Regions from separate parts of the Homo sapiens genome. Here regions 1, 3 and 4 are each linked to region 2. The links come from fine-mapping of genetic effects on gene expression. A gene starts in region 2. Each other region holds a variant in brackets. All regions are shown on one strand. Distances are from middle to middle.

Region 1 (8,106 bases), 940 kb before region 2:
CTGCTTTCTTTGACTAGGAAAGGGAATTCCCTGACCCCTTGTGCTTCCCAGGTAAGGCGATGCCTTGCCATGCTTCGGCTCGCACACGGTGAGCTGCACCCACTGTCCTGCACCTACTGTCTGGCACTCCCCAGTGAGATGAACCCGGTACCTCAGTTGGAAATGCAGAAATCACCTGTCTTTTGCGTCGCTCACACTGGGAGCTGTAGACTGGAGCTGTTCCTATTCGGCCATCTTGGCTCCTCAGCTGTTAGCCACTTTTCTACTGCTCTCTATTTTACGTCTGTGAATACAGTCACATGGAGGTTCAATAAACGTAAGTTGAATCATAGGTTGAATCTGAATAAGTCTATTGACTTCACTTTTTCTATTTCTTTGTTTCATTTTCTTGCTTGTGGCTCATCGCTGTGGTGCTGTACATCACTAAAGTGAGTAATGCAGCCCTCACTCTTTCCATGATAAAAAGGTACTTTTTTTCATCTGTCATGCACCTTCCCATGTAATGCATTTCTTTTCATCTCCCCCTCCACCTCCAAAGTCTACAGCCATCCTCTGATGACAGTTTGCAAGGCCAGAATGTGAGGGGATGAACAGGGTGGGGTGAGGTGGGGAGAGGAGGTCAGGGGATTGGGATGGAAGGTGGGAGAAGCATTCCCCTCCCTGGCTTCACAGCTGCCTTCCTGAAAGGCTACTGCTGTGGTCAGCACTGTCCTCAGGGTGACAGCAGTGCACGCGGCACCCATTTTATTCCACTGCTTGCTTGGATGCTTAGTCATAGTCATAGTCTTAATGAGTCACTCACTCTAGGCTAGTGAGAAAATTGGAAGGGATGTGCAAAGACAGGCAAGAGACGCGGGAGATATTTGCAGGGGAGGACTGGAAGTGGAAGAGGATGTAAAGGGACTGTGGAGAAGGGGCTGAGAAATGAGTGAAGGACCCCCTATGATGTTCCACTGAGGGGCATCCTTGTCTTTCAGTTTATGCCTGGAGATTCAACATGCACCTCACAGTTTTCAAAGCCTTTGTAACATGCATTCTCCATTGACTGTTGGAACAACTCTGTACGGTGGATAAGGTAGATCAACTGTATTGTAAAGAAGAGGAAATTGAGTCTAAATGAGGCTTAGTGAGTCACCCAAGACCAAAGAGCTACTGGACGTCAGGCCCTAACCTGGACCCCAGTAGCACCCCTAGAAATCACTGTGTATTGGCAACCACTCATGCAGTGCCATGCCTATCCTCCTCCTTTGGAGAACCTCATGAGCCAGTTGATGCGTTTGACAGAATATCTGAATTATCATGTGCTTGGTGTCTGACTCTGCTGCTGAGGGGTCATCAATAAGACCCTTTTTATGAAAACTGCTCAGTCAGTTGAAGTAGTCTTCCTATGGGTCCCAGACTCACTCTCTACCCTTTGCCTTTGTGCTGATCCCTGGGCATTGAGAATTTAACGATACTTTTCTTTCTTTCTTTCCCCTTCCCAGCCCTCCTGGGGGAGTGAGAGCAAGGGATGAGCAAAGCAAAGGGAGCTTGAAGTCTCCCTGGCTCCCAATCAATCACCTCCTTCAATAGCCTTCCACATCCTCTAAGACACTTTACAGACAAGTGCTTCGGGTAATGCACAGCAGGGGAAGGGGGCCTCTGGGATAGAGGGAAGGGGAGACAAAACATAAAGCAAGGAAGATACTGACCTTGCAACAAAGTTGAGCTCGTAGGCTCATTTAGTTCTAAATCGGTTGAGGGACACACAGGAGAGAAAAATGAGAACAAACACATATATTATATACAGTGCTATATATTTGTCATATATAGTTTGTATACTGCCTTTCACAGACATTTCTGGGGGATTATATAAAAAAAAGGAAGACAGAAACCAAAGGCGTAGGACAAGGTGCGGCAAGAGAAACGCTGACATGCTTTATGTTTCCATATTGAATGCCGTGACTGGGAAGGCAGGGAGCTGGTTACGCCATACATATTCTGGTGCAGTTGGATTCACTCTTAGCTCATGCTGAGCCATGCTACTAACTGGATAACAAAGGACTAAAGTTTCCTTCCAGATGAGACTTGTTTCCCACTTCCCCACCCCCATCGTTTCATCTTAGGACACCAAATTCAGAAATTTTTGCCCCTGGCACCACGGTAGGAACGAACGAGCTCCCCAGAGCACTGTGATTCAGGAGTGCGGGAGCAGAACTCTCAGAGGCCCCTGCAAGCCCTGTCACCTTAGCGATCAGGTGCTTGTGATGGGAAGGACTAACCTGCTCCCGTTTGGCTTAAGTATTCCCAGACCGCCGACTATGGTCTCTTGCACCAGAATTCCTCACTTCTCAACGTCTAGGCCACTTGGAGAGAGCGTGCAGTTTATGCACAAGTTGGTGGCAAAATGATGATAATTTTGCTGCCTTTCTAACTTCATCAAGAAGTTTGTATATTCGCAAAAAGTACATGCTGCTTTCCAACCTGCCCCAAGTGTGCTTGTTGGCTTTTAATGGAAACTGACATGGAAAATTCCCTAACAAACAAACAAATTCATATTTGTCAAAAGACCTCATTGATGGTGAGCCTCAATAATGAACCTAGGAGCCACAATAACATCCGAACTATTGGCTGCAAATACTCATCTCACACAGGAATGGGGTTTGCGAGCTCCACAGAATTATGTTACCCAGGCAGCATTGCTAGTGATGGACTCCTCAGGAATGATCTCTCAACTGAAGCTAACAAATTAAATTGGTTTCTGATTGAAACATCCTGCAAACTTTTTCTCCCCTAGAGATTTAGCATGTTAAGGCTCCGGGACTTCTGGCATTAAAGAACATCCCCACATGTACCCCACTCATCTTGGTGTGACCCACTCTTTCTAAACATATTTGAATACATACTACTACTTTTCCATGTCCTTTTTAGAAAACCCTGGACGCCAGAGAGCTGGCAATGGTAGAAACGTCCCAAAGGAGGCACAGGGCAGATGCTGATTGATAGACCCATAGGGTGGGGGGCATGGGAAGTAGACATTGTAATTGCTACATGTGTGCCTGCTGAAAAGAGCATATTTATGACCTGCACTTCACTGCTTTCCTTGTCATAAATGTCATCTATTCAACTCTTACGAGAACTGTTTGTTTGCTGCTTCTCCCTATTCTCATCCTGAGATGGCTTAAGGAGAAGAAGCCGGGGAAGTATACAATCATGATAAAGCCAATGGCTGAACCATTTCATGCAACCAAGTCAGGAGAGAGTAGGTCAAAGTGGGGGGTGGCGGGGGGAAGACTACCCCTGTGAGGATGAGGAGTGCTGTGGGTGGAGAGCAGGACTTGGGTTAATGGGAAACTGAGGGGGAGCCTTAGATTTAGATTTGCAAAGCAAGGGAAGGAGGGGTCTGTTCCTTCCTAATCCTGGTCTCTGTTCATGCAGACAGACGCCTGCCAAAAAGGCAAAAAGGCATGAAAAATGCAAGGGGCTCTTATGATCATCCCTGTGTGAGAGATGCCAGACACATCAATCACTCAAATCACAGCTCTGCCCATTCCAAGCCACTGGCTCGGGGATCAAGGGCGGCTTTCTCCTTCCCAGCTCTCTCAGATAAAGCTGGGATTTACTATTTGTGCCGGGTAGAATGCAGGAGGATGTAATGGGTGAGCAGAGATCGTGTGGTGAAGCAGTGCAGGCTCGTGATTCAGAGCAAGCCACATACGCTAGCACCGAGGGCACATGGCTGGGCCATGGGATTATCCCAAAGTTTTCAGAATATAAGGAATTTGTGTTCTTGCAAATTATCTGTCAAATGCCTCCCCTTACTTCCCCATCACATTCAAGAGTGCTTGTTAACATGAGGGATTGGGGAGACAGGTTTGAAAAATCTCAAGCTCAAAGAACTTGATGGGGTATGAAGGAATTTGCCCAAAACACAACCGGAATTTAATCCTGTGGCCTTTAGGGAGAATCTGCGTTCATCAAGGGATGGAGCCATCATGAGAGGCCCAGGGCCCTGCCTGGTGGCACCACCAGGAAGGCAGGCTCATGTCTGCACAGCTGTCTGCTAGCAGGGGCAGGCATCAGGGTTTACAAGGGAGCTCGCTCACTTTCTTCTGATATCAATACAGTAGCCAGATATGTGACGAAGGTGGGGCTCTTCATGTCCCAGCGACTGGAGACAGTTTTGGAAAAAGGAAAATTTTACACTAAGCCAGTAAGCAAAGACTGAAATAGCAAACATTCCCCTCTGAGTTCTTGACTATTTTACCCAATTATGATTCCCACAGTCAGCTTAGGAGCCATCATCACTGAGAAAAAAAAAATCAAATGTCATTTTTGGCATTCCAAAGTATTTTTCTCCTATCTCGGGATCTTTTCCATTATAGAATGAAACATGAACATTCTTTTTCATTTTCCTTTTCCCACTTCTGAGATCTACTTTTATACATGTACTATACATATACTACTTTGTATACATGTAAACTGTATCTCTTGTTCTTTCTCTTTCTGTCTGCCTCCTCCCTGTCTCTCTGTCCCTCTCTCTCCATTTCTTTCTGTGTCTCTCTCTTTTTTTTCCTCCCTCTCCATGTCCACTGATACCCTGCTAACCTCTGACCCTGGCCTTGAGGGGCCCTCCCACCCAGCTCTCCCGTTCTGCACCCTCTCCCCTCTTCTTGCCCAGCTCAGAGCACAGTCTCACCAAATAGCATGATGCTGGCATTGGTGTGGCCCAGCTTGTTGGAGGCCACGCAAGTGTAGTTCCCATAGTCATGTTCAGAGACATTGAAGAAGATGAGTTTTGAGAGGAAAGGTCTGTTTTCCACTTTCACCCCTTTCTTTCCTTCAATCAGTCTGAGAGAAACAAAAGACAAAAAAGAAGAAAACAAGATGGTTATGTGTCCTCATAGGAAGAAGATAGGCCCAGGGATTCCTGGTCTTCTCCTTGCCCCCCTTTCTG[A/G]CATCATTATAACCATTATTTGATCCACTCAACCACACCATAATGTAGTAGTAGTTCACAGACAGTGAGTGACACGTTGTTTCTTGATTTTCACACATGTGCCCAGGGGCACTCCTACCAGAACATCTGATCTCCCTAGCCTCTCATCCTTGCTTTGTAGTCTGACAGCAACACCACAACAAATAACCCCTGCCAGCTGTGTGGCATTCAGAGCAATACGATTCACACAGTAGGTGGTTCAAATGTGTGGGCCTGATGATGATGATGGTGATGGTGATGATGACAACCATGCAAATGAAAAACTCAAACTTCTGAGAGAAGAGCCACCTGAGGAATTTGAAAGAAAAATGTTTTTCGAGCACCTGGTAATCTAATTTCTCCTGAAGCACCAGAAGCATTGCATTGTATAGATAATACTTAATTTTTTGGCTATGAAGAGGAGAAAAATCATCATTTTCTCATTTTTCTCATCAGGGGACTCTGAAGGGCTTGGGAGGAGTGATCTGCCCAGACTGTTATAGAGGATTAGTCTGGAAGGATTAGAGGTTCCCAAGAATATGTCCCTTTAGAGCCAGGACAGTCTCCCTGAGCTCCACAATGGCAGCCCAGTAAGCCACAAGGACTTGCATTGGTCTGGGGGCCACTACAGAAATGCCACAGGGAGTTAGTTAGTTGGGGGAAGTGAGGTATGCTTATTAGAACCATGGATTCTATTACCAGGCAGATAAAAGGGTAAGGAGAAAGCTGCTATTGGAGTCAGTAGGCACATGTCCTCCTTCTCAGGAAGTTGTTAACAGCAATTCCTATGGCGATCATGGATACCACCTACTTTCCTTTGCAAGATTCCGAAATGTCCATTTCTTAGAATGAGCTTTAAGCCAACCTTTTACTTTTTCCCTGAAACAAACAATCTGTAATCCTTGCCCTGAAGCTGATTCTATGCTATGGGAAAGATGAATACTCTTGGGGCAAAAAACCCCTTCTTGATGAAGGATCTCAGGGAATATGGACACAAAGCTAAGTTTCCTGTTTAGGGCCTGGCTGGAGCACAGCTTGTAGCAAGCAGATAATAACATGGCGGGAGCACACTGGAACAGATTCAGGGGACATGCTTTGGGGCAAATGGATGCTATTGAGAAAAACAAACAGTACTCAAGGCTGTTTGACAATGATGAGGAAATGCTTTGCGGACCGCACAATGGCATCAGTATAATGTATTTCTATGGAGTTAGACATAGATGACTCTTGCCCATCCCTGGGTCACAGTGTTTTTTGGCATAGAGTGCAGCTGCTTTGTCATTATCTGAAGACCTGTCTCTGTGGGATTACAGAATAATTTCTCCACTCCTGCAACTTACAGTAACCTTGATCAGAAAAGAGAGGCAGGTTCTGGCCGGAGTTCTCACCCAACATCTGCCTCCAGGGAAGTCAGAAGATAGGTTGGACAGACTTGCCTTGCTTTTCATTATGTAGATGTTCCTCTGGGAGCCTTCCTCTCCAAACGCTAGGGGCAATGAACTGGCCTGAGTCCACGGCTTCATTAAAATGCTAGCACTGTCCAAATGGAATGAGGCATCCGGCTGTGCAGCCACAGGCCACTTTTACATTTCCAGCTTGCTATGTATACATTGATCCTCTAGGGGGTGCTGTCCATACCACTCACCGGGAGGATTCTGCGAGCAAGTCAGGCTGATTGATCCCACTGGCCGTTTTGACACCATTCGTCCACCATGGGGAGGAAGCTTTCCCATCATAACCAAACTGTGAATGAGATTTCAGCTCTGCAGTGGGGAGAGACTTAACTGAAAGTAGGCTCCTGCTTGACAGCTCTGAAATGTCTTTAGCTAAAAACAGCACAGGGGGCCAGCAGCACTTTGCAGGCTTTGCAGCTCCTGGGAGGACACGCTTTCCCCTTCTCTGTGCGGGCACACATCCCCTCCATCCCGCACTGCTTCCAGGCCTCAGTTTCTTACCAAAGCTGTGGACTTTTCATTGGTCAATGCCCCTGTTGGATGGGTGGCCTTCCGTAGGTATAGCATTCCATTCCTCTTCCTTTGTTGGATAACACATACAATAGCGTGCAGTTGAGTCATTCTGGCATGTGGCCAAAAGACTTCTCACCTAACTAACTCTTGAGAAAACTGCCTGTCCTCACCACACAGTTTCCTTTAATCTGCCTTGGTAGTCTGCTCATCTCACTGAAAATGGGAGATGGGCTAGAGCTGGCCTTCCCCCCAGGGCAGACACAATATGCCTTGGGAGACCTACCTGGCAGACCCAACTTGCTGTGACCAGGACCTCAGAGGCAGGGATGCTGCAGCTGAGCTGGGTGCCAGGAGGAAAGACAGCCCCTGTCTCATGCCAGCACACTGGAAATAAATAAATACATGTGCAGGGAAGGGAAAACTGACTAAACCACTAAATGGAAAGGGGAGAAAAGGAGAGGCCATCAGAAGAACTGAAAGAAAGACAGAAACAAAGCTGCCTGAGCCAGGGGCCTCTGAAGACTGTCCCTGGCCCTGCCAGCCTGCTCTCTCCTCCTGGGTGAATGGTGGCAGGGACAGCTGTCCCTATTGTGACCAGAGATGCTGCACAGAGGAGAGCTCTCTCATCCTTTTACTCGCCATTGGCCACTTTTGCTTTATTTTCCTCTAAGATTTTGCTTTCCCTTATATGTATTTTTTCTATTTTTCTCCAATAAAGAATTGGAATAATAGGACGCAGCTGATGACTTTTCATTAAGACCTAGACAATTGAAGATTTGGGAACTGACCCCATAGCTCAATAGGTTTTTTGTTTGGTTTGGTTCAATAATTAATTTTTATGCCTCAGTTTACTTCTTAGTACAATAAGAAGGTCGAAGAGGAAACGCATAAGTGAAACAGAATTTCTAAGTAAGGAAACCATATTTATCAGAAAAACACGCTCCAGTCTGCTTGATTCTTCTTTCTTGGAAGAAGGGGAAAGCCAGCTCTATTTCTTCATGAGTTTGTTTTTCCCCTTTGTGTCTTAGTTCTTTCATCTGTAAAATGGGCTACATGAATATAATACATCTCACTAGAAGCTGCCAGAATGTGTCCTTAAAAATTTTTTTTTAAAAAAACAAAACACTGCTTTTCATTTGGGAGGATTATGATAAAACCCAGTGAATCTTAAAACTGATTGACGTG
Region 2 (8,106 bases):
TTTTTGTTTGTTTGTTTGTTAATCTTTAGCATTCTAGTTTGTGAGCAGAAGCAGATCATGAGCTTGAATCCAAAATACTAGGAAAAAAGCCAAATCACAGACCTGTTCATCCTACCCAAAGTGTGCCTCTACTATGATTGAATGGCAAGAGCATTACAAATCTCTCCAGCATGTGTTTTCTGTACACGTCAGAATCATGTGCCCCATATTGATTCAGAAATTCTGCCATTTCTTGGGATGTTGAGAGAGCTCACTTCATCCCAAGGGACAAGTTTTGGCTAAAATCAACACCAGGTTGTTTGGCCCATCAAGAAAAGGAGCCACTATCAGCCTGGCAGACAGTACGCAGGCAGAGAGCAGAACCCAGGGAACTGCCAGGAGGCAATCTAGACCCTATCACCTCAGGCAGGGAACCAAGAGACACACCTGAAGACACTACGCAGGACGCCTGAATTAAAACCAGCGCTATGGAAGGAGGTTACTGAGAAAGAACAGAAGTCAGGGACTGTACATTGCAGCTGATAAGACGAGATCTGGGGGCTTATATTTGGCTTTAAGGGAACCAAAAAAGGGAAGAATCAGGACCAGGACCAGGCTCTGTGCCTGGTAACTAAAGCTGCAGTTTCAAGAATGGTCTTCATGCAGCGAGACCTGCCGGCCAGGGCAGACACTCTCCAGGCACGCTTGAGCGAATGCTCAGACGGCCATCCCCATTGGTGGGGTGGCCTCCTAATACAAAGGGCGGAGGTGAGCTACATTTGTGCCACTGTGCACGCCTTGCCAGGAACTTGCCTCAAGTTGGCAGCCCCAAGCCTGGCAGGCAGGTTCCATTCGATGAGGCTCCCTGACGCCCTCCCCTTACTGCCATGCTTCCAAGAGCCCACAATGCCTATGTCAGGCCCAGGGTCCCATCATCCCAGGCTGATGTTTCCACTTTGCCAGTAGATATTGCTATGGTCTCGTCTGCCACCCCTGAATATCAGAAGCATTGCCCAGCTCAAGCTGCTGCTGGCACCACGTGTGTACTGTGCATGGCAGGAACCTGGCCGGCCTGCCCAGCCGAACGGCGCCCACCGCCCACCTCCCGGGTGCTGCGCGAAGGGGAGTGTGAACTTTGCCGAGGCACCTTTTCCTTCTCCTCTGCCCTGTCTGTGTCTCAGGCTAGCTGCTAAGCGGATGCGGGATGTGAGGAGAGGTGAGGAAATGAGAAAGGTAAGAGAGGAACCTAGCCAAGCAAATCTGAAGGTGTTAAAAGAAACAATAATCCTTCGAAGGAGAAATGGTCGGTTTTCTAGAAAGAGGAAGCTGCAGCACAAGCAGCCATTCCTTTCAGAGGCTCTCAGTGGCAGAAGGTGGGCGGTGGGTGTTCTGCAAGGGACAGCGCCTGATCCAGTTCTGTAGCGTCTGCTCCCGGCAACGAGATGCCTCCACTTAATCAACCCTGGTGTATCTTAGGGCCAGAGCCCCAGGGAGCTAATCCCCCCTCCTGTCAGCGTCACTAATCAGTGCTGATTCCCTCAGAAACCCCCCTCCCTACCTAAGCTGGATCTTGGTTGCTGGTTGGGTTGTGGGGAGGAGCAGGTCAGGGAGGGGTTCCTAACCTGCCATTAGCACCAGACACCTTTTCAAGAGGCAGGAGGCACAGGAAGCAGCAGCTCTAGGAAGAACCAGCTTAAAACAAAAACAGAGGAGAAGAAAAAATCGCCTTGGAATGTGTGCTGCATTCTAACTAGTCCCACTGGGTCAATGCAATAGGGGTGGATTATTGCAGGCAAGACCTGGGCTGCCTCAGTAATTCTGCAAGTTTGATAAGAGATAGCTGGCAGACTTCAGCTTCCTTCCTCTGAAAGAGAAAACAGACATCACCTTTGCCACATCTGACTGGCATGCAATATGCGGGTCTTTGGGGGTCGTTCTGCGTTAAAATTGGGCAACCTTGTTCTATTACGACCACTGAAGCCTGTTCAGGGCTGACTGGGTGAGGGTAGCACAAATAAGGCCATCATTCTTTTTGAGAAATTCCGGATTCGGTAGAATGTGATAAGGTCTGAGATAGTGCTGTCGCCACCACCCCTACCCCAAGTTAGGAACAAGACCACAAAGTCAGATGGCACCTTAGAGAAATTGGCACCACCACTTTGCTACTCATCTATTCAGAGATGATTCAAAGTATGAGCAAATATTATGCTTCCCTGCATTTATTCTGATGAAAAAAAAAATCACGTATGCTAATTTATATGTAAATTCAGTATGGCCCTGGGGCTCCTGGCATGCAGCCAGCAGGGCTGTTGATGGTGGAAGTTTGGTCATTGTCTCCAGTTTGATGTTACAGGCAGAAGAGACATGGATCTCGGGACAGATAGAAATGACTGAGGGCTTGGGACCTTCCCTCTCCCTACCTCTGACCCCTCACCCTACCCCTTGCCTGCTTAGTTTTCATTTTTGCTGTCAACCCCCACAGAAACTGCTTTTCCGAAACTGCCCGATCCTGAACTCAGCTTCCCCACTTCATTCTTGTGCACCCAGAACAAGCAGGGGTGCACACACACGCACGCACACACACACACACTGATACTGCTTCATATTATATAAGAGGAGTCAATCGAGGATGCCTCCAAGTTGATTCCCTTCACTCAAACACCCACCAAAGCCCCTAGGGGACAGCAGGGAATCCTGAGGCCCATGCCTCCTGGGGTTGGGTGCAGCAGACGACATCATGGACATCCCTGCAAGATTCACCACCTTGGACTTCCTTATCACCCGACACAGATCCCTCCTGTCCCCACCCCTTGCCTTCTTCATCGAGCCCCAGTCAAGGGTGTACACATTTGATCCTTCCAGCCTGGTCTCTCTGCCCACCTTACGTGGATCCACACTGCAGCCACTGCAACCTATGTCAAGAGGACAGCAGCAATCCCTAAATCCTAACCTCGGAGAAGAGCCAGCAGGACTACAGCTCAGGACTCAGTCCAGATCAGGAGAACTCCATATTGCAGGGGGAGAAGAGGGCGAGGGGGTGGGACTCCCCATCGTTTTTCACCGGGTCAGAGGGAACTTTCCTCTGGGAATACAACTGCATAGGACTGAGCCTCACCTCCCAAGAGAGGGCTCCTCCTCCCGGAGCCCTGCTGGGCCACCCTGGGAAAGTTTCTCAGCTTGTCTCGATCCTTACGAGTTTTAGCTGTGTTTAATATAAAAGAGGCAAACTAGTTACCCCAAAGGACAGGGCAGGTGGGAGCAAGAAGATTAGTGGATAATTCTGTTGCTGGAACGAACAGACGTGAGAGCCGGGATGGGGTGTGGGGAGGCACGGTGCAGCAAATGGACTCAAGGTGGAGGCCGATTCCAAATGCACAGAACACAGCACTGGGGACATCAAAGCTTGCACTCAACTGCAGCCCCCAGGGCTCCCGGCTCAGCCGATAAATAAACAGAAAATTAGCATTCGACTCTTATTGCCTCTCTCCCTTCAACTTCGAAAAGCTTTTTAGAATTTCAGAGCCCCGGCTCCCCTCGCTTCCACACCTCCGACCCCAGCCACAAACACACCCCCGAACACATTTAAAACTAATACAGTTGTCCCCCACTGCTGCAAATTGACTCATCCCTTGCAGCTGGATCGCTGACCAGAACCTCACAGGAAGCACCTGATTCTTTCTAGCCTGCATTTTCCCCTTTGCTCCTTTTAAAAGCTTTGCAAGTTCGCTGGCCGATATTTAAAGTTTCCTCTTGTAATTTCTTCCCAGTCGCATAAGCAACACATTAGCAACCCTGTTGCCCTCCGAATCTGTCATTTCCCCCTGCTTACATGTGTGCTCCGTTGTGTATGTGTGCAAGAATGTGCATGAAGCCAGGGAGCCTTGCACACAAGCACAGTCCTAACAGGAGCACCAAACACATTTTACTTATGCACATACATATTCCCCCATTCCGGTAGCAGCCAGAATCAAATCAATATTCTCACAGCCTAGTCGGGAGAATGAAGTCCCAGCCATGCTGTCTAAACGCTCTCTCCTCCACCTGCAAACAGCGCAGCACAGCCGACTCGGGGAGTCTGCAAATCTTATAAAGCACACTGTACAATTCCTGGGTCTACCGAAGGCAAATCAATAGCAAGCTCTTACCTTGGAAGAGACACAGAGCAGCCAGCCCCGTGAAGATTGCCCAAGAGATAGAATTGTGCATTTTTGGCTGGATGGTTTTCATGATTTTTTTTCTTCTTCTTTTTCTTCTTTTTTGTCAGGTTCGGTTTTTTTCTTTCTTTCTTTCCTGATAGATTGTGTTGCTCTCAAGCTTGTGCAAGGAGATTTAAATCCACTGTTTTGCTGAAGGACACAACAAGAAAGCCGAGGGTGTGAGAGAGTATGACTTCTCCGTAATTATCTCCACTCATACTCTGGCACTGAGACACATTGTACAATCTGGCCCTGGACAGCCCTCCTACAAGCTGCAATCATTGGTTCTAATCCAAGGATTGACAGAGCTACAACACACGCGCGCGGGCACACACACACACACACACGCACACACACTCTCAGGAATCATTTACTGGGCAAATCAGGCTAGCTGATTAAAGAGACAGGAGCCTGGAGAGATAGAATGATAAATGCCACTTTGCCCCTTCTATATTACTTTCATTTTTTAAACTGACAGTCTCTGAGTCTTCTGAGTATCAGAAAATCCCTTTCCCCCTGGCATTCCCTGGCCTCCTGAACTCAGATTCCCTTTGCACTGGAAAAATCCCATAGCCAGCCATGGCTTATGGGAAATTTTAAAGGGACATTTTCATGCTCAGTGAAACTTGTAAAGATGAGGCAATTTTCATTTGTTGGTACCTATTTTCCCCTCCAATGGAAATATCATTCAGTGACAGCTTTTTTTTCTCTCTTTCATCAACCTTTCTACTTAGTTGCTTTGAAAATAGTAAATAACTTTCTATTTTCTCCTCCTGTCACTTCTGTTTCAGAACATCTATGTTACTCCTCTTTTTCATTCACTTTTTAGAAGTCAATTTCCTAAATTCATCCATGTGTATATGATACAATGGAAAGGTACAAAGTACCTGGTATTTGAGAAGAAGCTCTATAGTCTGAAGATGGAGAACCTTCTTCAAAAGAAAACAAAGCAGGAGTTTATTCCCCATGACTTGGTCAATCCACATCCACTAAAGCAATCATAGAAGCATCTGTGATTTAAACTGCAGCGAGAAAGATTCAGGGTAGACATGCGGAGGGGCTTTCTGAGTGTAAACTTTGTGTAGTTCCTCAGACAGTTGAAGACATTAACCTCCTTGGTGATAGGAAAGAATAAAAACCGAACAGAAATAATCTAATGGACATAAATGATTTCTTAAGAGGTCTAATTCTAGGGCCTGGAAGTTTATTCTAATCTTTGGCTTCCCCTTATGAGAAGCAAGTTAGAGGATGTGAACAAAAAATCTAGAAAATGTAGCTCCTGGCTGGGCACTGTGGCTCACGCCTGTAATCCCACAACTTTGGGAGGCCAAGGAAGGCCAGTAGCCTGAGCTCAGGAATTCGAGACCAGCCTGGGCAACATGGTGAAACCCTATCTCTACTAAAAAATTCCTTAAAAATATCTGGGTTTGGTGGTGCGCACCCGTGGTTCCAGCCACTTGGGTGGCTGAGGCAGGAGAATTGCTTGAGCCTGGGAGGCGGAGATCACAGTAAGCCAAGATGGCGCCACTACAATCCAGTCTGGGTGACAGAGCCAGCCCCTGTCTCAAGAAAAAAAAAAAAAAAAAAGAAAAGAAAAAGAAAATGTAGTTTCTCACAGAACCTTCCTTAGCTAATTCTGACACATTCATACCCCTACTATGCCTTGACACACATTTTAAAAATATTCTTCTAGAACTCCACCGCTAATTATTATACTTCCTTGTAACCCCATAAAAATGTTCATGTATTTTCAAACTGCATAGAAGAAAAGTACTCATTGTCTGTTTGTATTTTAGTGTACAGAGGTGAAATGAAAACATCACTGCCATTTTGCACATGTCTAAGACGTACGATTTACCTTGGCTTTTTTCTTTTTTCTTTCTTTTTTGTTTTTGTTTTTGACAGACTCTTGCCCCGTCACCCAGGTTGGAGTGCAGTGGTGCAATCACAGCTCACCGCAACTTTGAACTCCTGGGCTCAAGGAACCCTCCTGCCTTACCCACTATGCCCAGCTATTTTTTTTTTTTTTTTAATTTTCTACAACATAGTAGAGATGAAGTCTCACTATGTTGCTCAGGCTGGTTTCAAACTCCTTGCCTCAAGCAGTCCTTCCAGCCTTGGCCTCCCACAAGTTTACCTTGTGTTGTGTATGAATAGGGACAACACTGCCTGGAATGTGGGATCTTGTGACCTTGAGAGGAAGGGGCCCTGGGACCTCAAGATCTGGGGACCTCAAGATCCTTCTCATAGTTCTGCACAACTAAGGGACCTCAGGCAGGTCCTTTCACCTCTGTGAACCTTGGCTTCTTGTCTATAAAATTGTAGAACTGGAATAATTTATTATACTCCTTCTCATTTTAAAGATGTTTTATGTTAACTGGTATTTTTTTTCTTCTTGCCATTAAGTTCTAATTCACATATCTATCAAAATGTCCTTGATATCGTGAGCTCCCAATGGACAAGAATTTTATCTGTAGATGAGTCTTTTTGTGCGGTGCTCAGCATAGTGACATGTGTAATTAAATGCTTTGGAACAACTGTGACGGCAGGTGATAACAGTGCAGTGCAGAAGGAAGGTGGCTTCCTTTCACCACCATTTCATTTCTCTCCAGAACGATGATAAAGATCATGGGCCACTGGTAAGTCTTTAGTCCCAATCAGGAGAGGTGGACAATAACATTTGTAAATGTCCTTACCCTGAACTGTAATAAATCTATACAGTTACCAATGTTTATTAAGCTCCCAGGTGTGTACAGATAATAAGAAATTAATCATCGGAGTTGATATTTATTGATATTTATTTGCAATGTGCTAGACATGATACTCAGTGTTTTGCATGCATTTTTCTCATTAAATAATCACAACCTATGAAGTGGTGATATTATCATCCCCATTTTATAAATGAGGGCATTGAGGCTCAGAAAAAGCTTGTCCACAGCCACACAACAGTTAAGGAATGGAATCAGGATTTAAACCTGAGCATTTTCATCTTAGATCAACTTCAATAATAATATCCTGTGCTAAATACTGTGAGGGACTCAAATAGATATCAAGCATCCTAGCGTAGAATCTTTTTGTTGCTTTCAATAGCATATGAGATTATTAATAAACATTACAAAACAATACATATGTTGATACAAAACTACAGGAAGACTCATATACTGCTTTCAATCTTAACTGAGTTTCCAATGGTTGGTACATATAATTAATTTCATCAGACAGCACACAATAGGTGGTCATTTTCTATGATAGTTTTGTAAAGTTCTTTGGAGACGGTGGGAGTCATGAATACCGTGAGAGTGACTCTGATCCTAGATCTGAGGCAGAGGGAAGGACGTTGCTGGATGAGAATACCATGAATTAAAAACTAGAGTTAGAAATACACCAAGTATATTTGAGGTTCTAGTGACTTGTCTGAGATTCCCCATCCTACCATTCTGTATAGCAAGAAGAGCTTGAAAATATTTTTTAAATGAACCTTAGCATAATATGATGCTTGGCAGTTACTTTCTGCACACAGGTGAGGTAACCATGTCTGGTACCTGGCAGGCACAGACACTGGGCGTCACTGACATGACTTGTTGAATGAGAGCACGGACTTAGGGCTGCTTTGCTTGGGGTCCAAATCCCAGTTCTGTCCCCTAGGGGCTGTGAGATTAGGTTGAGTCATTTCAACTCCACATCTGAAACAGGATAGCAATTACACCCCCATCCCAACCATAGCCAGACATCCTAACCATCAACTAATTTTCATTAATTTTACTGTTTTTAACCAAGTTGAGATGGATGTGGTCTACCATGTGTCATTGGTAGAAGCTATCTGTGCTTGGGAACTAAGACTCCTGGACAGAGCAGTTTCAGCATTATGCTCTGTGCATTCATTGAGGCAAAATATATCCTCAGGGATTGCCGAACCAGAAGTCTAATTTGG
Region 3 (8,106 bases), 41 kb after region 2:
GGCTTCCCTACTCCCACACCTGGTAGTCACTCTCACATAGGTGAATGTAGGCACAAGAGCATTGTAAAATGACAAGCTCTCTCAGCAGTGCTCGCTATGCATGACGAGGTTTTAATGAAGATGTGTGGACTCAGGAGCAGTGAATACACTCGCAGCAGAAACCCAAATGCTGGTGGTGAGTTCACCTGCTGTTATCATTTCTTCCTCTTGCTCTGGGAAAATCTCCTGCTCATAAGGTTTGTGCCACAGGTTGGTCAAATGAGGATGCTAGATGAGATCCTCTCAGCCTTGCTGTTCCTTGGGTAGGACACTTGGTGCACCACTCAGTACCTGCCAACGCTCAGCCCCTCTTAGCCCTGTGCTGCTGAAGTTGTGGCTGTGATGTGGCCCTCAGGGTAGAGTGTGCCCTGAAGAGGAATGGATGGGATATTGCCCTCCTTTTCAGACGGACATTGGAGCCCCTGTCAGGATCAGCCAAGCCTAGCAATCCGGCTCCTCGGGTGGCTAGGAGTGGTCCCTCTCTCTGGCCACCCAGGCTGGAGTGCAATGCCACGATCTTGGCTCACTGCAACCTCTGCTCCCTGGGTTCAGGCAATTCTCCTGCCTCAGCCTCCCTAGTAGCTGGGACTACAGGGGTGTGTCACCACACCCAGCTAATTTTTGTATTTTTAGTAGAGATGGGGTTTCACCATGTTGGCCAGACTGGTCTAGAACTCCTGACCTCAAGTGATCTGCCTGCCTCGGCCTTCCAAAGTGCTGGGATTACAGGCATGCATCACCACGCCTGACCCCATCTTCTTCATTCTAAATGATATCAACAGGAATCAGGGGTTGGCTCTGGAGGAGACTGATTAAAAAACACTCCAGGAAGACGACAGAGTTCCTCCCAACTGCTTTCCTTGACAGCCCTGCTCCCTGTGTCTGCCATTTCTCTGCTGGCTGCTCAGTCCATCAGCAACCAAAGGAAGATCTGGGGGATTAGCTCTATAACCCTGCCCACAGGAACCTGAAGAAAATTGAATGTGGGAAGAAAGGGGCCCAGATGTAAAAGGAGAGAGTTCAGGGGTGGGATTTCTTTCTTTCTTACTCTTCTTTGGTTGTTTCTGTTTGTACAAGATGTGTTTCCTCCCTCAACCTCATCCAGCTGTCTTCCCAGCACATTGAAGAAAGGAGGGAAAAAGCTATTTAAATTTATACTACTGAATTTCTGTAGGACACTGAAATATTTCTGAAGTTAATAGGGGAGTGCTGAATAGTTTGTTCCAAATAATTACAGAAAAAAAGTACATTGAAATAATTAGTAGTTGCTACTAGAACATTCAGCAAAATGAAATGACATCTTTGCATGTCTATTAAGCAGCACTTTATTTTCAGTTTAGGGTGTTTTGGATGAAATTAGATGGTAAACATACTGCATCGTTGAGTGATTAGATGAACTAGTATCATTTAGAGTTAGACTAGCATCATCATCAGCTTTTTTCTTTTCCTCTTTAATAAAAAAAAGTTACTGTGCTCTCCTGTTAGGCAAGATTTTAATAGAAATGGGACCAACTGCAACCCTTGAGACTTCAGCTTAAGTGGCTTAGGTGTAATCTCCCTGGATGCCAGGAAAGACGTTAAACAGAATCTGATTATTCCATATTTTCTAATTCTGGGATTCTCTTCCTACTCTGCTTAGAGAATACATAAAAGCTCCCACACCACTGGTAACTTTAAAAAAAATCCAAATTTATAAATTTAGAAAAGGAAAGGGAGAGACTTTATTTCTTATAGAGGGTTACAGCCTGCAAGAGGGCCATCCCCTGGGCTGAGAGACCTGCCTCGGCCAAACCCAGGCAGGCACTTCACAGGAGGATTTGCTGGACTAACAGCTTTATGCTGAATGGGTTGGCTAAACATACCTGTTTAACAGGTGACAGGAGGAGCTATGAATATTCACGAAGGTGATCCCGACACACACGTACTGAACAAACATGCATGTAACATATGACCCATGTTCACTTTGGGGTGGAGACGGAGCATTTAAATGTATTACAATTAGGTCTTATTTGTCAAAAGGTCTCAGGGCATGAAGGCACGCAAGTGCACAGTCTCTGTAAATCAGCCGGAACCACTGCATGGTCAGTGTTCTTACCTGGAGAAAGTTACTGAAATCAGTCCCTGTCTAATCAAAGGTGTTGTCATGGCTGGTGAAACAGGGGTCTGTTAGTCAGCCTCTGCGAGCTGATGAGTTGTGTATGTTTTAATTTTGCTTATCTCAAGGCCAGTGCTTGTTTAGCTGCTAGAGAAAAAGAAAGAACCTTGTGGCAATTGGAACCTAGCTTATGCTTTAAGTCTGGGGTGCATGATTTAACTGCTGCCTGGCACGGCCTTAGGTCCTGTTTATCATTTGAAATCTTGTTGCCACAAAGCGTCCGTTCCATCTGTCTTATGGTCTCTGCTAAATGCTGGTTGGTTGTTGTATCTAAACGCAAAAGGGAGGGGACGCAGCACAACGTGTTTGACCTCCCATCTTGCTGTGGCTGGGAGCTAAGTTTTTAAGGTTTTTCTGGGGCCCCATTTGCCAAGAAGGGGTCCACTCAGCCTATGGCAAGGGCTTAGGATTTTATTTTTAGCTTACACCACCCACCTCTTTACTTTCAAAGCAGAATCTGATTTGCCAAAAACAGAAAATAGTCTTAGTCTAATGAGAAAAACCAAATTTGCCTTTAGCTCCACTCCTAGCCACTTTTACATTTCTCCTCTCTATTAAAAAAAATTCAAAAACTATTGACCAGGAGTGTGATTTCAGGATTTTAATTTATGGCAGGTGTTTAAGCACTAACGCCCTTGCCCCTCTCCCCTCTGTGTTCTGTCTTCCTCTTCTCCCTTTTGCCCCATCCTGGTCCTTCTGCCCCTCTGTGCCCCTTCTTCTAAGTGCTCCCCTTTCCCCTCTTCTTTCCTCACTCCAATGAGAGAAGAGGAAACAGAAGGAAAAACAAACGGACAGACAAGGAGTCCAGGTGTCACAACGGTGCCACGCACACTCGAGTGTGAGCACTGCATAATAAAGCATTGTTATTTTTTACTGTTTAATACGCTATTTTGGATGAATATTTAGGAGGCAAAATGGACTGAGAAAAATCATATGAGACTGTTCTACTTTTCTCTGATATTTTATTATTGTGCTCCAAGAAATTTGTCAGCTCGCTGCTTCCTCATTAAAAAAAATTAAAATGCTTGGGAGTTCTGAGATTCCATCTTGTGCAGAGAGGAAAGAGGAAATGGGGGAGAAATGACCCATGAGAAATGACCCCTGATTCATGGTGGGAAACAGCAAAGGAATGAGACAGCTGGAGACCACGGAGCTCCATAGTTGACTTGGGGCTGCCATGTTTATTTTCTGGCCTGGCGCTTCCTTAGCCCAGAACACTCACCTCTCCCTCCCTAGGCTCGTTTGTCCAGGGTTACCCATTAGGAGGCGCTGCCTGCTACCATACCCTTAGACCCCCGGGTTGTGCCTACTGAGCTCCAGGAGAAGGGGATACCATTGGCCTTTCCTGCCCTGGAAGCTGAGCTTTCCATGTGTCCTCCAATGGGGCAGCTGAGCAAGGTTCTGATGCCCTCATAAGAGGACGCATTTACACTCGTCACTTTTGCTTTGTAATATTTGCTATTCAAGTGGATCCCTTCCAAAGACCAGTTTGTTGTTTACCCCAGAAGAGTGACACCAAATTTTACATTTAAGACAAAAATAAAAGGAAGAAAGAGCAAATAAGCTATGGAATTTATGTGGGGGCGGGAAGGGCCTTCCAGGACGCATAGAGCTGGCTGTGCCATCTGCCTCCCCTTAGCTTCGGTGCCTCCTTGACTCCTTGGCCTGCTATCAGCCTCACCTCTGACACAGGGGTGGCGATGACAAGAGCTAAGGCCACTTCTGCAGCCAACGCTTGGGCCTCCCCGCAAGGGAAGCTTTCTTTGCAACATTGCTCAGCTCTGTGAGTTAGTGGGGCCACTTTCCCCTTCCCTCCAATGCTCCATTTTCTCTTACAGGTCATGTTCCCTTCAACTCTGCCTTCCTCTCATCCTGCACCCGTGGCTTTGGTGGACTGTGCTCCTCTGCTTGTTCTTCCCACGGATAGAGCCCCATCAGCATACGGATTTGTCTTTTTCTTGCAGCGCTGCATGGATGCAGCCATTCCTCTGTATCTCCCCTTCCCTGATCCTACCTATGGTGACTTCTTCAGTTGCCCCACTTAGACAGTGCCTCTCTTGTTGAACTTGATGCAGGGGCAGTTCAAATCTTAATCACTAGCTTGCCTCCACACAAGAGGCTCTCCTGCAACTCAGTCGCACATTTCCTCCTGGGATAAGCTCTGGACCCCGTAGCCACAAATTCAGGACACTGTTTCCTAAATGGCAGCAAGGCCTCTTGGCCATGCTGGCCTGCCCTTACTGGGGCAAGAGGGGATTTCAGCCCATGATGCGAAAGAAACTGAAACCTAGTCATGGGTGATGCTTGGAAACATCCCTAGAGGCAGTGCTGCCACTCAAAACTGCCTGCCTCACTCATTGCTGACTGCCTGCCTCCCCCACTGCTGACTGCCTGCCTCCCCACCCTCAGCTCTGAAAACTCATCTCCACCCTAAGACAGTAGGAAGGTGTGAGCACTTGCCTCTGCCTGTTCCACAACCCCAGCCATGGCTCTGTGGGGCTTCTTTCCCAGCCCCATCAGCCTCGGCTGTGAGGGAAGATAGTGTGGCTCTGCCAGGTA[G/A]CAGGTGCTGCAGGAAGGAACAGGATACAATTTTGGTTATATAGGGCAGCAAATATACTGCAAGCCCTCAGGGAAAAGCCACAGCCTCAGTTCCCAAACCAGGTCGGTTCAGAAGCTTTGTGCTCTGGATTTATAGTGTCTGTATTGAGCCAATTTAAACAATTTCAAGCAACAGGACCCATATGATAAATTGCATGTAACTCATCCTGTAAGAGAGAGAAGAGGCTTGGATTGAATTTGAACTTTTAGGGGTGGAGGGTGATCCAAGGAGCCTCAGAGTGTTCTCTCATAGCCATTAAAACCAACAACTAGGCAAAAAAGGACCAGCCTATATGTAAGCAACAGCACCCGTGCCTTGGAAACAGGATAGAGGCAGGTGGGTAGTCCCATAACAAAGGCATGGCTGTGGGGTGCTTGGGGATGGCTCTGTGGATCTAAGCCTTACCAGCAGGCTGGATTTGAGGGAGTGAAGTAACCTCACCAAATGTAATAATAATAATAATAATAGTATCTATTAATAATAGTATCTGTGTGGTTTTGAGTATCAAAAGACATAAAATAAAATAGTACTTAATATTTATTATGTACTTAATTTGTGCCACATACTATTCTAACTGCTTTATATGTTCATGATGTGGTTCCCAGAATATAGTAAGTACTTAATAATTACTGAATGTCTTTTTTAAATAATGACAGTCATAAAAACACTTTTAAAGCACACATCATGCGTCAGAGCTCTGTTCTAAATACTTTATATATCGACACACTTAATCTTTGTAACAGCTCTGTGAAGCAGGTACTATACTATCATCCCCATTTTACAGATGAAGAGACCAAGATGCAGAGAGGCTAAGTTAAAGGATTGCCCAAGGTGAAGAGCTGTTAAGAGGTGGACCTGGAATCTGAGCCTCCGAGATGCCCGTAAAGGCCGGTTCTTAACTACTGGATGTCCTCCAATCAATACTGACTGAATTCCTTCTAAATGCCAGGCACTATTCCAAGGGCTTGGAATACATTAGAGCTCCACACAGACAAAAATCTCTTCTTCACCTCCTCGAGAGGGAGACAGACAATAAACAAGTCAAGTCAGTAAAATATCTACCTTGTTAGAAAGTGGTCAGCAGTAAGGAATACAAATGGAGCAGAAGAGGGGAATGAGATGTTTCAACCTGGGGAAACTTTGGAATGTCGGATCAGGAAAAGCCTCGCTGAGGAAGTGGTGTATGAGTCAGGACCTAAGGAAGTGAGACAGCTAGCCCTGCATCCAAGGGCAAGAGCATCCCAGGCAGAGGCAGCCCGTGCAAAGACCCTAGGACCTAGGTTGTCAGAATTAATTACATTGATTGGATCCACACGCCCTCCTCATCTCAAATATCTGAGCTTAGCAAACATCTCAGCACCAGAGTTGAAGGCACAAGGGTTTGGAAGTAGACTTTGAAATGTCCCTTTTTACTTACAAATCCAGCTGGTAACCTCTGCAGGTTAACAGGACCCATTGCTGCCATGAGCACTCATGCAGGTGTGAGGACCAAGTTTGCGTCTTCTGCTTGCAGATGGAGAGTGCGAGAGAGGGTCTAAAGCTGAAGACAACCTTACTTAAAATCACTTTGATCCAAGGATTGTAGCCATTTAGTGCTTATTGATTTTTCTTTCCTATTTTTAGGAAGGTGGGAGCATGCTAATTAAACATTTTTGAGTAGAACTGGCTTCCAGGGAGGATGGCTTAAGAGCCCCAGAGAGCAGAATCTTTTATTTGCTTTCCACCAGAGGCCCGAGGAATGCAAGAGCCAGTGGATCTGCATGTTTCACACCTCCTGGCCACCCAGGCTCTGCATCAGGGCAGAGGCTCTCTGAGCCCCGTGTGGCCTGTGCCTCGCCTTCTATCCTTGCCTCCTGTGAGGAGAGGCATCAAGAGGATGGGCAAAGAGAAAATGTTTTTAAACAAGAGATGAGGACAGCCCCTCCATGTCTATTGGAACATGGCTCTAGGAAACGTGAGTCTGTCAAGACCAGACCCCTCTAGAACCTCAGCTGACCCCATACGCTCGACTGAGGGTACCTGGCAGATGGTCACAGTTAGCCCTGCCACCAGCTTCTGGAAGGACACAGGGCTGAATGCCAGGACACTGCTGGCTGGACCATCCCATCCCAAATGTTCTCAGCAGCACAGTCCAAGAAGGTGCCTTCCCCAGAGAACTCTCCAGGGTTCCCGGGCCGAATGAGGCCCTTGAGTGCTTTATCACAGAAGCAAACACACAACACACCAACTTACATTTCTGTCTCCACAGATTTCTTTCCTTTCCAATTTTACATGTATCTCTTATTCTGTTAAGGGTCCAATGGTATTTTATTATACTTTTAACGATAACAGTAACATTCAGCCCGACACTATCTTCCTTCGCTTAATGGATTATCTTCAAACTCTGAAAGGCATATATTATTATCCCCATTTTCCAGATAAGAAGGAAGGCTTATACATGTTACATACCTCATTTAAAATCAAAAGTTAGTAACTGGCAGAGCTGAAGTTTGACCCAGCTCTGAAGACTCTGCAGCACACACTCTCAGTGTGATATTAACTTTCCTGTGTCAGCTATCCAAGATCTGAAAATGTATATACCTATATATGTACATCTATACATATCAATACAATTAATATACATGTATACTGTAGGAAAAACAAATACTTTTTCATGTTACCACATATTATAAAACAGATTGACAAGAGAAAAGCACACATATGTATTTAACACAAATTTTATATAACGTGAGAGCCTTCAGAAATAAACACCTCCCAAAACAAGAGAATGCGTGCGTTTTTCTGCTGAGGTCTGATGAAGAGTGGACAGCCGCGGGGAAGTGTGATTGGACATAAGGGTTTGATCTAATGGCAATAAACTGGGGATGGAGTTAACAAGGCCCTGTTTGTTCAGATTCTGCTCGGTGTTAAGGTGTCTTCAGAGATAAGGGTGCTCCTTCCCTCCAGGTAGAGGAAGGGCATCTCTGGAATGAGGGATCTCATGACCTGCTTCAGGGGAAAATGACTTGGGGGAAGTGAAAGCAATCTTCCTGCTTCTGCTGTTTTCTCAAATGCCAGGGTGCTATGTTTTGGAATAGTGTGTCGTTAACCATAGCAGTGCTTACACACACATATACTTGCATGCATGTACGCGCGCGCGCGCGCACACACACACACACACACACACACACACACACAGAGAGAGAGAGTATGGTCGGCTATAGGAATGATTGGAAAGAATTAAGAGTGCTATACGCTGGGCAAAGTTGTATGGAGCAGGGTATAGGAGGTGAATATGAGGCATGAAATGTACTTATTGTGGGTGGGGAATGTT
Region 4 (8,106 bases), 730 kb before region 2:
TTTCTACTGTAAATATTTTGGTACATAGCCTCATGCGGCACAGCCTGTTGCATGCACCATAACAGATCCACTTTGACATAAAGATGCCCCAGCTCTTAAGGCACACAGATTCTCTTCTTAGGATTACTTCTTTCTAGTGCAACAAACACATCCTAGGTGCCAGGAGTTGTGCCTTGCACAACTGGGAATAGAACAACAACAACGAAAAACACAGTCCCGGTCTGCATCAGATATACTCTGTAGAATGACCTTCCTAAACAACACACATACAAGTTGGTGTATACCATACGCATAACTTCAAATGTGGTCCTGCTACTAATAGACTATTTGAAGTTCAGAGGTGCTATGCCTAGGTCTGCTGATGAAGGCCACTTGAAGGGACAGCAAGGGAGAGGACAGGCATTTGCCCACCCTCTGTTGTGTGTCAGGCTCCTTGCTCTGCATTTTCATCTGCACCACGTCATTTAACCCTCCAGCCTGGGAAGACCTTTAGAGGTAAGGAAATTAAGTCTCGGAAGAATTAAGTGTCTTGACTAAATTCACAGCCACTCAGTGGTACAGTTGAGACACGAATCCAGGAGGCAAAATATGCACACTACCTTCCCTTTTAGGGTTAAGTATCTACATGCAGAAGCTGCAGAAATCTCAGGAAAGGAAAGAGCAGGTGCCATAGGTATCTTCCCTCCTTGTTGTCACCTGCCCCAGCCATATGTAACTGAATTAGCAACAACGTAACAATATAACCTGAAGCTCACTTAATAGTTTTGCACTAAATAATACATTAAAATAAATAAATTATCCAGACAAACTGTAGGAATACGAAAAGGCATTTTCACATGATTGCAAATCTCAACGTTCCTAAGCTGGAGACTGTATTTGTAGTGGTGTGCTCCACAGCAACAAAATGCCCGAGATTAGAAATGCCAGCGCAATAGCAAAGGGAAAATTGGCTGTAGCTAAGAATCACATTCCTTCTGTACATTTTATTTGGAGCCACCGTGGACCCCAAAGATGGTAGAAGGGCCTGATTCCAATCTGGCAGGGACGATGTGCCAATTGGTATCAGTCTGTCCAATCTGTCTTACATAAGCCTGGAGAGAGGCCGGTGAGGAGGAGGTGCTGCCTGCGCCTGTGTGCGCCCAGGCGGTCACCTCCAGAAACATCTGCCCCTGCGGTTCCACAATAGGCATGGTAGGGATGAAATGAAGGCCGGCCCTGGCATCAGTTGCTTTTCTATGGGGCCAATTTGCAATGTAGATGCCACAGGCTCCCTGAGGCCCTGAGGAACCTGTGGCCTTTCCAGTCCAATTTGGCTCTGTTGTGCTCAGTTCGGAAAAGTTGCACTTGGTTTAATGCCTCAACAAGAGGCATTTGATGTGTGCGAGCACCTGTAACTGTTGGGGCAGGCTGCTGTGCCAGGAACAGGGAAGACAGGCTCCACACAGCTTGCAGATTGGGAGCAAGGGGGCTGTCTAAGGTCAGTGTGGGCTCATGGGGCACTCCCAGAAATGCATGGCATCTCTCCCCTCAGGAAGCATCCTTCCGAAAAGTTATGCAAATGGGTGATCTGTACTACAAAGTGGGGCAGAGGGAAATTCCATTAGGAAGACCAATGAGAAAACTACTCCAGTGTATAGATAGCAAAACTCTTCCACACTGTGGAAAATAACCAGTTGACAACACCTGAATTCTTTAAGGTCAGAAAGATACCTTGCTACCTGCTTATAAGAAGAAGGGATATTTTCCCATCTCTTCTCACCACCCTGAGAATAAGTGAGATCCACCTCGCTTTTGTTCGTGGTGCAGTTATATGGCACAGCACGTTGTGTGTCCCAAGACAGATCCAGTTTGACATAATGTATGCCCCAGCTCTTCAGGCACACTGACTCTCTTCTTAGGAATACTTCTTTCCAGTGCAAGAAACACATCCTAGGAGCCAGGAGTTGTGCCTTGCATTGGAGACAGAACGAAAAACCACGTAGCCCCTGTCCCCTTCAGGTTTATTCTCTAGTATAGGATAGAGATGCATAAAAAAGTATATGTATATATTCTATTAAAATCTCAGAAGACAGAAAAAGTCATAGTTCGGATACTTTGGGAGCTAAAGTAATGTTTCCTGAAAGGGATACCATCTGAATGAATTCCTGAAGAATGAGAAAGAGTGGCCAAGGAGAAAAAGAATGTGAAGGCTACTGCAGGCAAAATACAGAACATAAGCCAAGACTTAGAGGCGTGAAGCAGGCAATGACTGAACGGATCCATTGCAATTCTACCTTCCAGCAGTGTGACCTGTAGGAATGGTGGGAAATGGGGCTGAGAAGTAGGGAGGAGAGATCAGGTTACAGAAAGCTTTTTGTGCCATGACAAGGATCTTAGATGTGAAACAGTCAAGGACTATAATAGTTTATATTTTACAAAAACCTGCCTGTCCTCTGTGTGGAAGATTTGAAGATGCAAGGTTGGAGTTAGGTGAGGCAGGACAGGAGGCAGGGAAATGAGATAGTGAATTATGGCAACAGTTAAGGCAAGAGATAGTGAGGTGTATACCTACACACCGTATACGCCTAGTGATAGACAGACTGAGAAGAGGACAACATCAAATTGGAAGAGCTCGGTGAGAAATAAGAAGGTCTTAGGTTTCTGGCCTGCATTATATGGAACAGGTTACATCATAGATATTCACATACATTCAAACATACACACACACACACACACACACACACACAAGGTTGTGTTCCTTGGTCTATCCAAACTCCCTTATTTAGCTTGACAACATTACAGAAGGGGTATTCATGAATTCAACAGATATTTCCTGACCACGGCTTCTGTAGCTAGTCTTTGTGTAACTTCCACCCAGTGGGGAAGACGGTGTGCCTGGTTATCGTATTGAGGAGCTGAAGGTCACTGGTACCAAGAGGTCAAGTTACAAGGTCAACATAGATGAGGTAGAGTGATGTCACAGGTGGATGCCACCTAGAAATGGCTGCTGCTCAGCCATCTCTCTTCATCCTGAGTTTTCTTTTGCCTAAGTGAGCAGCCTCTCTGCGGTGGAACACAACTGGCACGATCAATATTAAAATAAAGGGTGGGGAGGGCAGGAGAGGAAGAAAACAGCCACTCAAGTCCATAGAGGTAGGAAAGATTGATCAATGGCCTCAGGAACAATCCATACTAATTATGGTGATAAAAAGCTGTCAGTCAATACCCTGGATATTAAATTTAGTGGATTGGAGACAACAGGTCTGCTTTCATTTCCCTGACCATTTTATTTATTGAAACACTCAGATACAAATGAGCATTCAGTGCTAAGATTACATTATTGTTTCACCTGCTTTGAACTGCAAATGCTTTGATAACTGAATGGAAAAAGCTGTCAAATTTCCCTCTGTAGTTTCTATGCAGAAGTCTTCCCTCACCATCTGATGAAATTCCATTTTGTAAAGTCTGACAGTGATACTCGTCATTAAATCACAGCTGATAGCCCACCTCACATATCAAAACACAGCTCAGTGTCTGTATATGTATGCGTGGGGGTGGGGCGCTGGTAGTGAACCCTGGAAGGAAAGGAGGGATTCCCTTAGCTAGGAGACAATAAAGCCTTTCCGAAGACAGCAACAGCTGATAATACCTTGCTGTAGAAAGTTGTGCTTCTGTGAATATGGCCATTCGAGTAAGTTTGTGCCCACATGCCCAGGGCCAAAGGAAATGAAGAAATGGATTCAAAAGAAGCTAATGGAGATGGCCTGCTTCCTGCCACCCCAGTTCTATAGCTGGTAATTCAACTGTCACAGAAGCATGTGCTAGTGGGTGAAACTCAAAGGGGGCTTGCATAATGCAAATTCAATCTGCTGGATCCTCTTTGG[G/A]CCTATGTGTCCCCCCAGTGTGATGATCCGCCTGCCCACAGTCAGATCATAGTGGTGCTGGCTAACCATCTTCCAAATCAATCCCTGATCTGGGAAAACAACATCCAGTGCATACTTTATCAATGATGCTGATCAATACCACACAAAGATACTAAACAAACTCTGTTTAGATCCCAAGATTGCTCCCACGAGTGACTGCCATGGGACACATGGGTGTGGTTACCAATCAGACAGCTTTCATTTGGAAAACTTCTTTCAATATGTTAAAAACATGCAAATATAGGCAGAGAAATGTAAAAAGGTCTCTCATAGTGTAATAAGTTACTGCTTTTGTTTTTGTTTTAATTTGGAATTACTGTTTCTGTGAGAATGCCTATTTTGTTCACGATTTTAGTCCAGTGTCTCAAAGGAGAAGTTTAGGGGGTGGTGAGTAGAAAGGGATCTCAATGGTGCAAAGTGGGGGAAGGAAATGAAAGAGGAAGAAAAGGATGGGGTAGAGCACAGGGTGTTAAGGTTTTAAGGAGGCTCACCAAGACTAGGAGGCATGGCGCCCCTACTGTTTCAGCATGGGAATGCAGTGAGGCGTTCAAACCACCAGTTGTTACAATGCTTTTTATGTGAGAAAGCACCTGACCTTCTCCTCAAAGGGTACATTTTGTATTATGTAGGTACTCAGGCTTGTTATCCGGAAAGTAGCAGGGTCCCAAGAAGACCTGTTTCTTAAGTTAAGACTTGCTTTTCTTCTCGGAGCTGTCCTGCAGTGGCAGAATTTAGTAGATTTCAGGGAACAGAACCACTGGGAGGGAGTCTATAGACCTGGGTTTAAGAACAATACCCACTGATAACCTACCCGGGGCAAGTCACTTCACCTCTTTGTCCCTCAGTCCTTTAGATTTTAGAAATTAGACTACATCACTGTTTTCCAGTTTTTTTGTGTTGTGAATCTGTAGTGGGTCATGAAATCAATGGAATGATTTTTATCCGTGAGTTTTTAAAATGAAATAAATAAGATAAAATAGAAAATATCAGCATATATTGAACATCAGAAGAATAAGTTGTGTGTCATGAGATAAAAAATATTTGACCACCACTGGATTAGAAGACCTCCAAGACACTTTCCAAATGGAATAATGTATGAGTCTCTGATTCTAATTCTCAGCAGACTGCCACCAATCAACCTGGAGCCAACTACCTACAGCTCAAGAGAGAGTTTCCAAGCTCCCTTTCTTGGTCAGCAGAGTTTTTCCCCCTTTATCTCTCATTTACAATTTGATGTTACAGGTGTTGCTACAATTTCAGTTTTGATAACACTGAGTTAATTAAGACATGATCTCTAAGAGGCAGGTGGTTACAAGGAGATAAGCAGCGGCTTCTGCAGGCAGTAAACAGCTGGTGCTCCTGACCAGCTTCTGGGGATTTGCTCCTTTTATAAAGAAGACAAAACTATCGCTCCCGATTAAACATGAACATAATGTTTGCACAAATATTTGGCAGATTATTTGGACATTGCTCTGGTTGTGATCAAAACAGTCCAAGCTGCAGGGCTGCTGTATACAGGTTGTGCAGGTTGTTCACTGCACAAGGGTGCCTGGCCAAGGAAGCATGTGAGGCTGAAGTCCAGGTACTATTTGCTTGTTAAGCTATCAACCCCAGGTTGGGGCTACATCTCCTGACGGAATTCACATAGAGATGCTACAAGTTCACCACGCCTTGTACTTGTGGGGCTATATTTGCCTACGGGGGCAAGTTTCCCACTTCTTAAAAGGCACTTTATGGGCTAGTAGCCAGACTTGCCTGGAGTTGAAATAGAAGACTGAAAAGGCAAAGCTAAGACATTGGCATTAGATCGGGACAGGGACACTATCTGCAGGCAACTGAGGTGCGTGGTCTAGAGCATTAGTCTCGTCATTCAAGCACGTGGGTAGGAGACAGCTGCCACCCATGAAGCATGCACAGAGGTGGCCTTCTTTATAGGAAAAGCACAGACCCCAGAAGTTTCAGAATAGATGAATTAATGGAGATGGCCGCAACGCCAAAGGCTCTTCACACAAAAGATTCTCTATGGGATTCTTTAAAATATTGGACTACCTTTTTTGCATTTAAGATATTATTAGATTTATCATGAGTCACAATTTTGGGGGAATATACTAATTACATCAAGCACAGCATGTTCTTTCATGCACAAAGTTACACTGTTTGGCTCTGATTTGTATGAAGCAGGCATTATCACTTTTAATTTTTGGTAAACTAATGATATAACTACTGATATTTTAACAGTTACTAAATTTAAATCAGTCAACACCTCATAATTAAAGAATATCCTAGCTGTTTTAACTTTCCACATCATGACAGATTTATTTCTAGCAGGATCAATGGATATTCATAACAATACCTGTTACAGCAAAATACTTGCCACGAATCTTTCTTTGCCTTAATTGGGCAAAAGCAGAACTGGTAGAATATTTTAGTTTATTCCCAAGGGTAAAGTTTGCCTCAATTGCAAAACGGGCATCACGGATGAGTCCACTTTAGTGTGATGAGCAGCCTACCATCTGCCCAAGTGGGAGGAACTCAACCAATGCCGGAACCCTTTTCCCTCTGGCTCCTTTATGGAAAAGGTCCTCATCACAATGACCTGCATGAAGCTATCAGATCCAAGTATTTGAGGAGAAGCCCTTTCATCAGAAGTTCACGAGTGTTCACGAAGTCTCTACTACCTTCCAGGCTCTATGTTCAAGACATTCTCAAATAGAAAGCTTTTTCCCAGGCCAGCCTGACCTAGGAGGTCATATCAGTGTTATTTACTCATTATGATATCTCAGTTGTTATGTCAACACAATAGAAGTTACAACTGAGGTATCACCAAAGAAACCCATAGACTTTGTTTTACTTGAAATACTAGAAGAGATGGAAGTCGTCTTTCTGAGGCCTGACACAGGACGGACAAGTGACATTCCCTGATGAGATTTAGAACAGTGAGCCATCAGCACCCAGGAGCATCCTGGCCTCCAGTGCAACACAGACTGAGTGTCCCCAGCATCCTGGCCGACGTGGCACCAACAGCCAAGTGAGGCTAACTCAGGATCAGTGACCTGCTGTGGTTCCAGTGCCACTCGACCAGGTCAATCACACTCCCAAATGTGTGTTCCCTTTAGGAAGGACCATTAGCAATGACACGACCACCACACACACAACACTTGCGTGCTCTCTCTAGAGAGCTGAGCTGTTTCTGAACCTGCAGAAGGAAGGGGTACATATGTCTTAAGCAGCCTCTCTGTAACCTAAATTCTCAGGAATTCCATTTACAGGAACATTGGTCTTACAGATCTACCTAGAGATTAAGTCCAAAATAACTGCTGGAGCTTCACGCCACCTGAAACAAATCTATTCAGCTGGGTTAGTAACCCTTGGTCATAGTCATATCATGGGAAGCTGCAATTTATTTAGTGCCTACTATGTGCTAGACACTTAGTGTCTGCAGCACCAGAGAACATCCTCTGAAACCTGTAGACTGTACACTCCCAGGGCCAGCATAGCCTCCTTCTGATGCCTTCTCCTCTCAGACTCTCCACAGGTACCCTTGGTCACCCTGTTCCTCTCATAGTGAGCTGGGTTTTCCAAAAACTGCATGATGATTTATGGCTTGTAAATGTCGACTCCCCTCCCCGCAGGCCCTAGACCAAGGCAGGCAGGAAGATGAAGAGTGAGGAGACACTGGGGGAAGAAATCAGCGCTTCTGCTGGCCGAGCGGAGCCTGATTGCTCCTTGATGGGTCAGTAATTAATTGCTCCAGAGTGGTGGGTCTGAGACTGCAGAATTGTGCCTTGTGAATAGGCCCTAGAGGGCGGGGGGAGTTACATTGCTTGTAAGATCATTAGGCGAATATTATAAGTAATACTCCATGGCTCCCTCATTAAATACTAAGTGAGTCATTCAATCTTGGGGTTCTATTTCTATTCCCCATTCTAAATGCAACTTTAATGATTTAAAATCCCTTCAACCCAATTACAGCCCTGTATTCTGATTAGGAACTCTCGCCCATTGTGAGCGGGAACCATTATCCTGCAGCCTATAGCAAAATTAGCACCCAGAGAGGTTGCACTAGGAAATAAATCTTTCCCTGACATTTCAAGACCAATGCCCGGCCAATTACAACACACTCTGTTACTCTAGTAATGTGAAACTGAGTTGCTCCTTGCAATCAAAGGTCGCTGGTCAGAAAGATAAAGAAGAAAATCATTCA

Which allele goes with the higher level. Positions count from the first base shown, and alleles are read on the strand shown. Sizes are in standard deviations (SD) of each study's normalised expression.
With allele G in place of A in region 1, the expression in testis of the gene that starts at base 4,398 in region 2 is lower (moderate effect, 0.60 SD a copy in GTEx).
For the expression in lung of the gene that starts at base 4,398 in region 2, allele A in region 3 goes with a higher level than allele G (large effect, 0.92 SD a copy in GTEx).
For the expression in tibial nerve of the gene that starts at base 4,398 in region 2, A is the low allele of the variant in region 4 and G is the other (small effect, 0.36 SD a copy in GTEx).

What was found. PIP is the estimated chance that this variant, and not a neighbour inherited with it, causes the effect.
Region 1: its variant is fine-mapped to the expression of NTM in testis (GTEx, PIP 0.94).
Region 3: its variant is fine-mapped to the expression of NTM in lung (TOPMed, PIP above 0.99).
Region 4: its variant is fine-mapped to the expression of NTM in tibial nerve (GTEx, PIP above 0.99).

What each region holds. Positions count from the first base shown.
Region 1 is chr11:132,311,276-132,319,381 of GRCh38, reverse strand. NTM (neurotrimin) reads right to left here. Exons shown (of 9, transcript NM_001352005.2): 7 at 4,679-4,830. Among named protein-coding and RNA genes, the nearest start is that of NTM-IT, 31 kb to the right of the region's middle. RefSeq lists an enhancer at 1-1,183. The variant A/G (reference allele first, on the strand shown) is at 4,937.
Region 2 is chr11:131,366,907-131,375,012 of GRCh38, reverse strand. It overlaps NTM (neurotrimin), which reads right to left and starts at 4,398. Exons shown (of 9, transcript NM_001352005.2): 1 at 4,125-4,398. The coding sequence starts at 4,206. RefSeq lists an enhancer at 273-935.
Region 3 is chr11:131,325,498-131,333,603 of GRCh38, reverse strand. No RefSeq gene overlaps it. Among named protein-coding and RNA genes, the nearest start is that of NTM, 41 kb to the left of the region's middle. The variant G/A (reference allele first, on the strand shown) is at 4,754.
Region 4 is chr11:132,096,177-132,104,282 of GRCh38, reverse strand. The region is part of intron 2 of NTM (neurotrimin); the gene reads right to left. Among named protein-coding and RNA genes, the nearest start is that of NTM-IT, 180 kb to the left of the region's middle. The variant G/A (reference allele first, on the strand shown) is at 3,864.